3 linked regions of the Homo sapiens genome follow. The protein of the gene in region 3 purifies or fractionates together with the protein of the main gene of each other region. This does not show direct contact. Each region holds a gene or a part of one and is shown on either strand. Other genes may lie near its edges. The genes, in order: PCSK9, PCSK6 and MSTN.

Region 1 (3,500 bases), on a different chromosome or scaffold from region 3:
TCTGTTCTACTCTGACTGGAGTCCAAGATGCATATATACAGAGATATGGGTGATGGGGCTGCAAGGTAGGTTGAGGTAGGGGCCAAGGAGGAGCATGGAGTTTGGACTTGATTCATGAGGCTGTGGGGAGCCAGTGAAGGTTCTTAAGCAGGTATGTCTGCCTGAGAGCAGTTGGAGCAGACAAGAGCTAAAAACCAAACAAATCACCATAGATAGTGGCTGCTATAATTTGTTTGTCCCCTCCAAATCTCATGTGGAAATTTGGTCCTCAGTGTTGGAAGTGGGGCCTAATGGGAGGTGTTTGGGTCATGGGGGAGGAACCCCTGTGAAAGGCTTGGTGCCGTCCTTGTGATAATGAGTAAGTTCTCCCGCTATGATTTCCCTTGAAGGCTGATTATTAAAAAGAGCTTGGCACCTCCCTCTCTTCTCTCTTGCTTCTTCTCTTGCCATGTGATTGATCTCTGCACATGTAGGCTCCCCTTCACCTTCTGCCATCAGTGAAAGCAGCTTAAGGCCCTCACCAGAAGCAGATGCTGGTGCCATGCTTCCTGGAGAGCTTGCAGAATCATGAGCTGAATAAATCCCTTTTCCTTGTAAATTACTCACCTTCAGGTATTCCTTTATATAGCAACACAAAAGGACTAAGACAGTGGCCTTGACTTTTCTCTCTCTTTAAGAAGTGTTGCCTTTGCTCACTTAGTCATCCCTTCTGCCTGCATTTGTAGAGCATCTGGATGGGAGATTTATATAACCGTCACTCTTGACTTTCCCAGCAGGCCTATGTCATAGGTACTGTGGTCTCTACAATACAGCAGAGGTATCTGAGGCTCCGAGAGGTTGAGTGACTTGCTCATGGCTGCACAACCAGTAAATATTGGAGCTGGAATTCAGGTCCACGGTTTCCTGGCTCCAAAGCCCATGATTTTTTCCCTCAATTTATTCTGACTGGGGCATGGGGGAGGGGGTGGCCTTTGGGCAGGGCCACCAGGAGCGACCAGGCCCGTAGAGAGCTGGGTGCAGGTACAGAGGAAAACCTGTTGTCGAGTGTGGCCCGTAGTTCCCATTTTTGCCTGAATGGCACATTTGAAAGTGTTATATAACCATGTGAATAATAATAGTTGGCCTATATGAGTTCTTTAATTTGCTTTTTGGTCCGCATTTGGTAACTTCTTTATCATCTACTATACTCTGTTGTGTCTCTTTTGTTGTAATTTGTAAGTAGGGGTGAGATAAAGTACACCTAGGGTTTGCTGGGTTTCTTCCATGTCATCATGTTCCTCCTTGCATGGGGCCAGGATCCGTGGAGGTTGCCTGGCACCTACGTGGTGGTGCTGAAGGAGGAGACCCACCTCTCGCAGTCAGAGCGCACTGCCCGCCGCCTGCAGGCCCAGGCTGCCCGCCGGGGATACCTCACCAAGATCCTGCATGTCTTCCATGGCCTTCTTCCTGGCTTCCTGGTGAAGATGAGTGGCGACCTGCTGGAGCTGGTGAGCCACCCTTTTTGGGAATGGCACTTCCTGATAGGGCTGGGCCACTGCATATACACTGGGGACTGTGCTTAGTAGGCCCATTGCTGAAAATCAGAAGGGGACAGCAAGTATGTATTGAGCACTTATCGGGTACCAAGCACAGTAACTACTGGCTTTCTGTATAGAATTCCCTTTAAGCCTGGCCATGCCCCAGTGGTACGTCTATCTTCATTTGAAAGACGAGGAGACTGAAGTTCAGAGGGGACCACACAGACAGCTAGGGGTAGAGCCTGGATCAAACCCATTGGTCTGCCTGCCAGCCATTCTTGTGCCAATGCATCTGCTGCCTACGGAAACCTGTAGGGACAAGGCCCTGGGATGTTCAGTGGAGCCTGAGTCATTTTATAAAAAAGCATGACTCTAGGGTCCAAAATTCCTTTGAAGCTGTTGCTATCCAGAGTGAAGTCCCTTCTTTAGGACAGGGTGGCCCTCCTCCCTCCTGGATGTCACATCTTCGGTGGAGGGGCAGAAAGGGGACTGGGTATTCTCCTCACCCTGGCCCTAGTGCTTCAAATCTTAAAAAAACGTTTTTATTTGTGCTTCTGCACCACCTTCTAGCCCACCTCGTTTCCTGGCCTCTAACTTGATGAGAGCGTGTGTCATTTTCACACTGATTCTCCACATGGCAGGCGGTGCTTCTTAGCCTCCTGCAGACAGTGAGGCCCCACGGTCTTGTCCAAGGTCACACAGCGTGTAATGGGCAGGGTCAGAGTCTGGAGTCTGGACCTGGGTCTCCTAGCTGCACTGCACTGCTGCCCCATGGGTTAATCAGCTCAGCATACCGTGGCTGAACAGCTACCTCATACCAAGGCCTGTGGCGCCATGACAGGGATTGACAGGGTCCCTGCCTTGGAAACCCGTAGTCTAAGTAGAGGAGACTGACAAGTCAATGCCTTCCATCAGTCTGCTCAACACACGTTTACCAAGTGCCTACTGTGTGCTGCAGAGGCGAAGATGACACAGCTCAGGCCTTTCCCTTGAGCTTACAGTTCAGGAGGAGAGACTGACCAGTGACTGCCAGTACAGTTGACTATGGGACAATGTGCTCAGCCTTGGGGAGAGACGAAGAAGGTACCCGTATAGCACCAGATGACAGGCACGAGCCCCACAGGCCAGGGCAGCTGCTCAGAGGAGAGTAGGCCAAGCAGAAGGCAAACAGAAGGCTGCAGGCATTTGCCATCGAGAGCTGGACTTCAAACTGGGCATCATACCAGCCTGGGTTCGAGTCCTGCCCAGCCCCTTATTGGCTGTCTAACCCTGAGCAAATCCCTTCACCTCTCTGAGCCTCATTCCTCTATCTGTAAACCAGTTATAATAATTGGAACATTCATTTAAGGACTAAATGAGGTCGTGAAGCATTCAGCAGATGCTAGGTACGGAAACTCGCTGAAGTGGGGGCAGGTTAAGAAGCCTCTGGGGATACGAAGGCATCCAGGGACTAGTTGTGGCAGGAGGCTGTTACCACTTAGGTCTGAAGGGTAAGGAGAGGGAATAGCTTTCCCTCTGCCCAGTTGGAGCCGGTGGCATGGAGGAGAGGCTGCCTGTGGGGAATCACCCGAGGGTTCACCGCTGCCATGCGCAGGGAGTCAGGAGGTAGGGAGGGAGTGGGGCAGATGCACACCATTTTTTTTTTTTTTTGAGACTCTGTTGCCCAGACTGGAGTGCAGTGGTGCCATATCTGCACCTCTGCCTCCCGGGTTCAAGCTCACTGCAACCTCTGCCTCCCGGGTTCAAGCGATTCTCCTGCCTCAGCCTCCCGAGTAGCTGGGACTACAGGTGTGTGCCACCATGCCTGGCTAATTTTTGTATTTTTAATAGAGATGGGGTTTCACCATGTTGGCCAGGCTGGTCTCGAACTCTCGACCTCAGGTGATCCCCCACCTCGGCCTCCCAAAGTGCTGGGATTACAGGCGTGAGTCACCGCTCCCAGCTGCTGATGCACTCTTGTCCTTCTAACTCCTGCTAGTGCCT
Region 2 (3,832 bases), on a different chromosome or scaffold from region 3:
CTGGGTACGGAGTGTGCATCGGGGCGAATCTTCTCTCCCATCCGCAAAACCAGGAGAGCAGACTGCACTAAGAACTCAGTGAGCCTGACAGAGGTTGTCTCAAAGGGGCGGCATGGCCAAGGGTTAGGCATTTTTATTCCCACAGATAGAAATTTCCGGGGAGAGTTACCTGTGCCTCTCTGCCTCTCTCTTGCAGTGTGAGCTCACAGCTCAATTTCAGCTCCATTCTGCTCATTTAATTTTAGAATCCCAAAACCCAGGCACTTTGTAATTTATCGCGTAGTTTAAGAGTCACTTTTAGCTGAAGACAAATTGCTGGGCCACCTGGGCACAGCAGCGAAGTGTGGCAGGAGCCAGGGGCACTACGCAAACATGAGGAACACCTTCTTCAGCCTGGACAATCAGCCAGGGAGAGTCAAGAACTACAGAGACAAACGAAGTCAGTGCTACCCGACGGCAAAATCTGAAATCACAGGATGTTTGGAGGGCCTTGAGTGGTTAAAAAAACTAAATATCTATATGGATATACATGTGCGTATATGTATGTGTGTATATGTGTATATATGTAACATTTTATATATATATATGCATATATTTAAAAGGTCTCCAAAGATGTGCTAGCATTCTTTCAGTAAACTCGAACCTGCCTTGTGAAGATTCCTTCATTCGAATGGTGGAATCCACCCCTCCAGCCACACACCTAATAGTACATCAACGTGGGGCTTGGGATGCAGAACTAATGTCATTTCTATCAATCAGGGACGCCACCACACCTTGCTGGCTTCTGCCACGGATAACGATGAAACTACATTTAACACTGCCTGGCACTAAGGTTTAGAGTTATGAGTCGGTGCTTCCCTGTCACTTCACTTAACCCTCTGAGTGTGTAGTTTGTAGATTTGTTAACTGCACTGAGAGGTCCCCTGGTGTGACCTCAAAATAACGGCCTCTCCAGGAGCCATAAACATGGATCAACCCCAACTCACCGCCCCTCAGCCCGGTAGCTGGTTGAGAGAGGAAAAAGGGACCCGCCGGGAGGTCCTTTGAGGGTAATGCCGCCTTTGTGCCCAGGGCGTGGCCTGCTTGCTCACTGACAGAAGAGGGGACAGCCGAGGGCTGCGGGGCTGGGAGGGCCCCGTGGGGGCCGGTGAGGGTCAGGCCCCGGTCCAGGCTCTGTGGCAACGCAGCATTAGATCTTTCCGACAACCCAGCGGTGTAGACATTGCCACTGACTGCAAAGGAGCTTGTCAGGGGAGCGACTTGCCAAAGGTCACACCGCTCGGCCATCAGAACCGCGGCAGAAGCCCCCACACAAAGCGCCCTCCCTCCGCTCCTGGAGAGGTTTTAAACCCAGGACCCCCGGCCCTGCGCTGTCCCAAGGCCTCTCCGACGGCGGCCGGGCTCCAGGGTGCAGGCTCCCGGCCATCTACCCCCGGGAGCCGCGGACACCGAGGGAGCGCGAGTCCCCGAGACGCCGGGCCACGCTCATGTCACCCAAGCAGCGGCCGCGGCCGCCTTGGCGCGCGCACCGGGTCCGGAGCTCGCGCCGCCCGTCGAGGGCAGAGGGGCCGCTCCCCCGCGGGGGAGAGCCGGGTGGGCGCCCAGGACCCAGCGGCGGACGGCGCGCGACGCCTGAGGCAGCCCAGACTCCCCCGGAGCCCGGCAGGTGTCCGCGCCGCCCCGGCTTCTGAGGCCACACTTCCGAGCGCGGGGTTGGGCGGCACTGCCGGGGGACTTGCGGTCGGCGCGCCGGACCTGCGTGGGCGCCCACGCGGGACCCCAGTCCCCCCCACCCCGCCGAGTGTCCCGCGCGCGCCCCCCCGGGCGACACCCCCCCCCGCAGGGCGCCCCGGCCGCCCGCCGTCCCCAAGCGGTCCCGGAGCCTTCCCACGCGCGCGCGGGGCCGGGGCCGGGCGGACAGGACTGCGGAGGCGCCCCCCTCGCGCGCGCCGGAGGCCGCCGGGAAAGTTTTGGGCGCGCGGGGCCGGCCGCACTCACCTGGCCCAAGTTGAGGTACCCGTGCGCCGCCGCCACGCGGTCCGCCTCGGCCGGGCCGCCCAGCACTTGCACCGCCCAGTGGTTGGTGTAGACGGGGCGCGGCGGGGGCGCGGAGCAGGCGGCAGGCAGCGCCAGCAGCAGCAGCCAGCGCCAGGGACGCGGCGCGAGCGGCCGGAACCCGGGCCCGCCGGCGCCCCCCGCGCCCCCCGCGCCCCCCGCGCCCGCGGCGGTGTCGGTGGCGGCGGCGGCCCGGGGCGGCGGCCGGGGCCCGGGCGCAGGCGGCGCGCGCGGAGGCATAGCGGCGACAGGCTCGCGCGGCGCCCGAGCTGCGAGTGCGCCGGGGGGTGGAGTGCCGCCTTTTAAAGCCGCTCCGCGCCGGGGAAGCGCCGCCGCCGCCGCCACCGCCGCCGCCAACACCGCCGCGGGCGGGAGCCGGGGAGGAGGAGGCGGCCGCGGCGCGTTCCCGCCCCCGGGCCCGCGCTCCTGCGACCGGGCTCCGGGGCCGAGAGCCGTCCGGGAGGCCCGAAACGCCCCCCACCGGGGGAACTTCCCCGCCGACTTCTGGGGCTCTCGGGACGCGGTGCCGCCCCAGAGGCGTCCTCGGCCCGCGAGTTCTGCTGGGAGCGGGGAGGCCCCGGCGTCTCAGGTGAGTCCCCGGTTCCCTAGACCGGCCGGACACCCGAAGGCCGCACTCACCTGGCGGGGGCCTCAGACGCCTGGCGGCCTCGCCCGCCTCCCTAGACGGAGGGCTCGCCCGTGTGCGGGGTCCCAGGGAGAAGAAGCTGCGGGGAAGACAGTGGGTCGCCCGGGACCAAGCCTGGCTGAAGGGACACATTGAGCGGGGCAAAGGCATGTGGCGCATCAGCCGGGCTCACGAGCGTGTACCCGAGAAACCACCGCACGGAGCCCATGGCGGAGGCCGCGGCCCATGCTGGGAGGCAGGCCGTGCAGGTGAACCCCCAGGCCGCGCAGGTGAACCCCCAGGCCGCGCAGGTGAACCCCCAGGCCGTGCAGGTGAACCCCCAGGCCGCGCAGGTGAACCCCCAGGCCGTGCAGGTGAACCCCCAGGCCGTCCGCTTAGCCTCGCTGCGATCTTGGGCAAATGACTGTGGTGGCTGAGGGCAGGCGCCCCACCTGCAAAATGCGGGGAACAGTGGCATCTACCCCGTCGGGCTGATTTGAGGATGAGGTCAGCTTTTGCTGTACAATAAGCTGTCCGTAAACGTTCGTTTTTATGAGCCCAGGGCCTGCCGTGTGGTAGGTGTTCACTAGACGATGTACACTCTTAAAAGCACCCACTGAGCTGGGACCAGCAGTAGAAAGTCAGCTGAATCATCCTCACCCCTGCTTCCTGGAGCAGCCTGGTATCCAGTGGATAATGATTTGAAGCACCCTGGAGATGGATGGAAATGTTCACACCATAATCAAGGAATTATGAAGGGTAAGGATCGCTGCTGGATCTCTTCTGTCATCCCTCCCAGGACCCATTGGTCCTACTGGCCCACTTCCAGAAAGCAAGCCATCAACCTGCTTAATATAGGAAGTAAAACAAAAAGGTCGAGAAGGCCTTGAGGTGGGAAGGAAGCTGCTTCTCTGATGGTCAGTTCCAGGAGCGGTCTCTTGTTGAGCGTGCAGGATTCACTTGGAGTCTGTGGCTTGGCAGCTGGAGGTGAGAGGCTGGGGCGAGAGGGGATGGGCTGAGGACAGGATCTGCATAGATGGTTTCCGAGGTCCTTTCCAGCCTCGCTCTCAGGAGCCCTTTGGTTTTGTAACCCACGTGATTCATCATTTCTTCAGGTGTGAGTCACCCCTAATGGAGGTGGGAGAACAGGAG
Region 3 (2,497 bases):
TTTGTAAAAATACAAATTCACACTCTCCAGAGCAGTAATTGGCCTTATATCTTTTAGGAGCGATAATCCAATCCCATCCAAAAGCTTCAAAATCCACAGTTAGAGGGTAACGACAGCATCGTGATTCTGTTGAGTGCTCATCACAGTCAAGACCAAAATCCCTTCTGGATCTTTTTGGTGTGTCTGTTACCTTGACCTCTAAAAACGGATTCTGTTTGAAAAGGAAAGAACAATCAGTAATATCAATAGGCCTGGAAACACTTTTCTACCTACCTTAAGAAGTTATTGTTGAAGTAATAAACTAATAATTTTGCTCATACCACATTTATTTTTAAAAGGCACAGCATTAAGGAATGTTAATTTACACTAGGCTTGATTTTCCCCTTATGTCTCAAAAGAATTTAACAGCAATACAAATTCCCCTAAGGTCAGTACCATGTCTTTTTAAGTTTTATTTTTCCAAGTTTGAGTACCAGATTGCCTGGCACATAATGGATGTCCTGAAAATATTTATGGGAAGAAAGGGAGGGAAGGAAGAAAGGAGAGAGAGAGGAGAAGAAGAAGTGGGGAATGAAGGAAAGAGCTAACAGCTCCCTCTCTTCTTGCTTCCTGATTAAATATGTTGGCTAAATATGCCTGGTAACTCCTGGAGGGTTAGGTATAGTCATCCATCCTCCTCACTCAGGAAAACTTGGACAATAAAACCAGGGCAAAATAGGGAAGGACAAATTCAGAAGAAGAGACGATGATATTTCCTTTATTCTTTCACTGGAAAATGTTTCTATTCAGGTATTTAAAAATTTGTTGATTCTGTCTCTGCCCCAATCTTTTAATGCATTTGAGACTTTGTTTCCCTTTACATGAAAAAATCTGAGGAACACAACATATTAACCACTGGACATATTATCAATTTTGATCATTAAAATTCTACCTATAAAAAGGAACACTTTCTTAAATAATTGACAGTAGTTTTTAACCCATATCTAAATGAAAATAGCTCTGGCAGTGTTATTTAAGACTGTCAAAAATAATAATATCATTTTGGGAGTCATTAACATTTAAAGTAGCATATATAAAGGAAACTAGATCATTTAGAAAATTGTATAGTCTTTTAGACACCTGCACACGTATGTTTATCGCAGCATAATTCACAGTTGTAAAGATATGGAACCAGCCTAAGTGCCCATCAGCGGATGAATGGATAAAGAAAATGTGGTATATATACACCATGGAATACTATTTAACCATAAAAAAGAGTAAAGGAATGTCTTTTGCAGCAAATTAGATGGAGCTGGAGGCCATTATTCGAAGGGAATGGAAAACCAAATACCATACGTTCTTACTTACAAGTGCGAGCTAAGCTATGCGTACGCAAAGACATACAGAGTAGTATAAGGTACTTCGGAGACTCAGAAAGGGATGAGGGATTAAAAACTACATATTTGGTACAATATACACTACTTGGAGTGATGGGTGCACTAAAACCTCAGACTTCACCACTGTACAATTCATCTATGTAGCCAGAAACCACTTGTACCCCCCAACATATTGAAGTAAAACATGTGTGTGTGTGTATAAATATATATATACACATATATATAATAAAGTAATAAAAATGAAAAAATATTGTATAGTATTTTAAAGAATGTTTTATTTAGAGTAGATCTGATCTGCTAATTATATCATCTTTATAACTAAGATCATTGAATGATTACAAAGGTAACAGGTTTGTTGTTTACAAGTATAATCTTCTTTTGTAAATTATATCAATAGATGAACGTAAAAAGATGTGATCACATTAAGTATTTGAAAACAGAAATTTAGGTAAGCCAGAAGAGTAACCCTAAATTTGTACTAGGAATTAAAATGGTTTTTATTAATTTTTGTGATATATAAGGTATTGTCATTTACTTGGCCTGGTACTAAATTAGTCGGCCTTCCCTGAGTAAATTTTTGCACAAGAATGCTAAGGCAGCTCAGAAATAAGCTAGGTGGCAAAGGTTAACTAGTATGTAACTTGAAATTTTATTAGGAGTATTCCACAAAGAAATATATACACACATCAGTGCATCAACATCCTACAAATAATGAACATATTTATCTTGAGAAACCTTAAATATATTTAATAAAGTATAAGCCTATAAATATCACTCTTAATTTCTCTGAATAAAACATTTAATTATAATTTTAAAAGGTTTATCTGTTTTATGCTAAGCCAAAAATCTTTAACACATTTGGCACCCTTCTGGGAGAAAAAAATAATGTTTGGATTTGTTGGTTTATGTGGTAAAATCCACTATATAGAGTTAATATTTTAATACATACAGTCATGTATCATATTAATGAAAAGCACTTTATATTTCATTCCCAATTCAAAAGGACTTCTTAAGAAGTTAAGAAGTATGGTATAATTGTTTTCTAAAATCTTGATGCAAAGTAAGAGTATCAAGGGAGTGTTTCATAGGATATGAAATTGGACACCTACTTTTATTGGGTA

What was found.
Region 1: the proteins of MSTN (region 3) and PCSK9 purify together in Homo sapiens (affinity purification with mass spectrometry; one large-scale study listed by BioGRID and IntAct). This does not show direct contact.
Region 2: the proteins of MSTN (region 3) and PCSK6 purify together in Homo sapiens (affinity purification with mass spectrometry; one large-scale study listed by BioGRID and IntAct). This does not show direct contact.

Annotation. Positions count from the first base shown.
Region 1 is NC_000001.11:55,042,548-55,046,047, forward strand, and holds part of PCSK9 (proprotein convertase subtilisin/kexin type 9 isoform 1 preproprotein), read left to right. Parts: intron 1-1,295; coding exon 1,296-1,487; intron 1,488-3,500.
Region 2 is NC_000015.10:101,487,376-101,491,207, forward strand, and holds the start of PCSK6 (proprotein convertase subtilisin/kexin type 6 isoform PACE4-AI preproprotein), read right to left. Parts: upstream 2,333-3,832; 5' UTR 2,296-2,332; coding exon 1,999-2,295; intron 1,779-1,998; exon of another isoform or gene 1-1,778. UniProt on the Homo sapiens protein: Serine endoprotease that processes various proproteins by cleavage at paired basic amino acids, recognizing the RXXX[KR]R consensus motif.
Region 3 is NC_000002.12:190,057,428-190,059,924, forward strand, and holds part of MSTN (growth/differentiation factor 8 preproprotein), read right to left. Parts: intron 212-2,497; coding exon 1-211. UniProt on the Homo sapiens protein: Acts specifically as a negative regulator of skeletal muscle growth.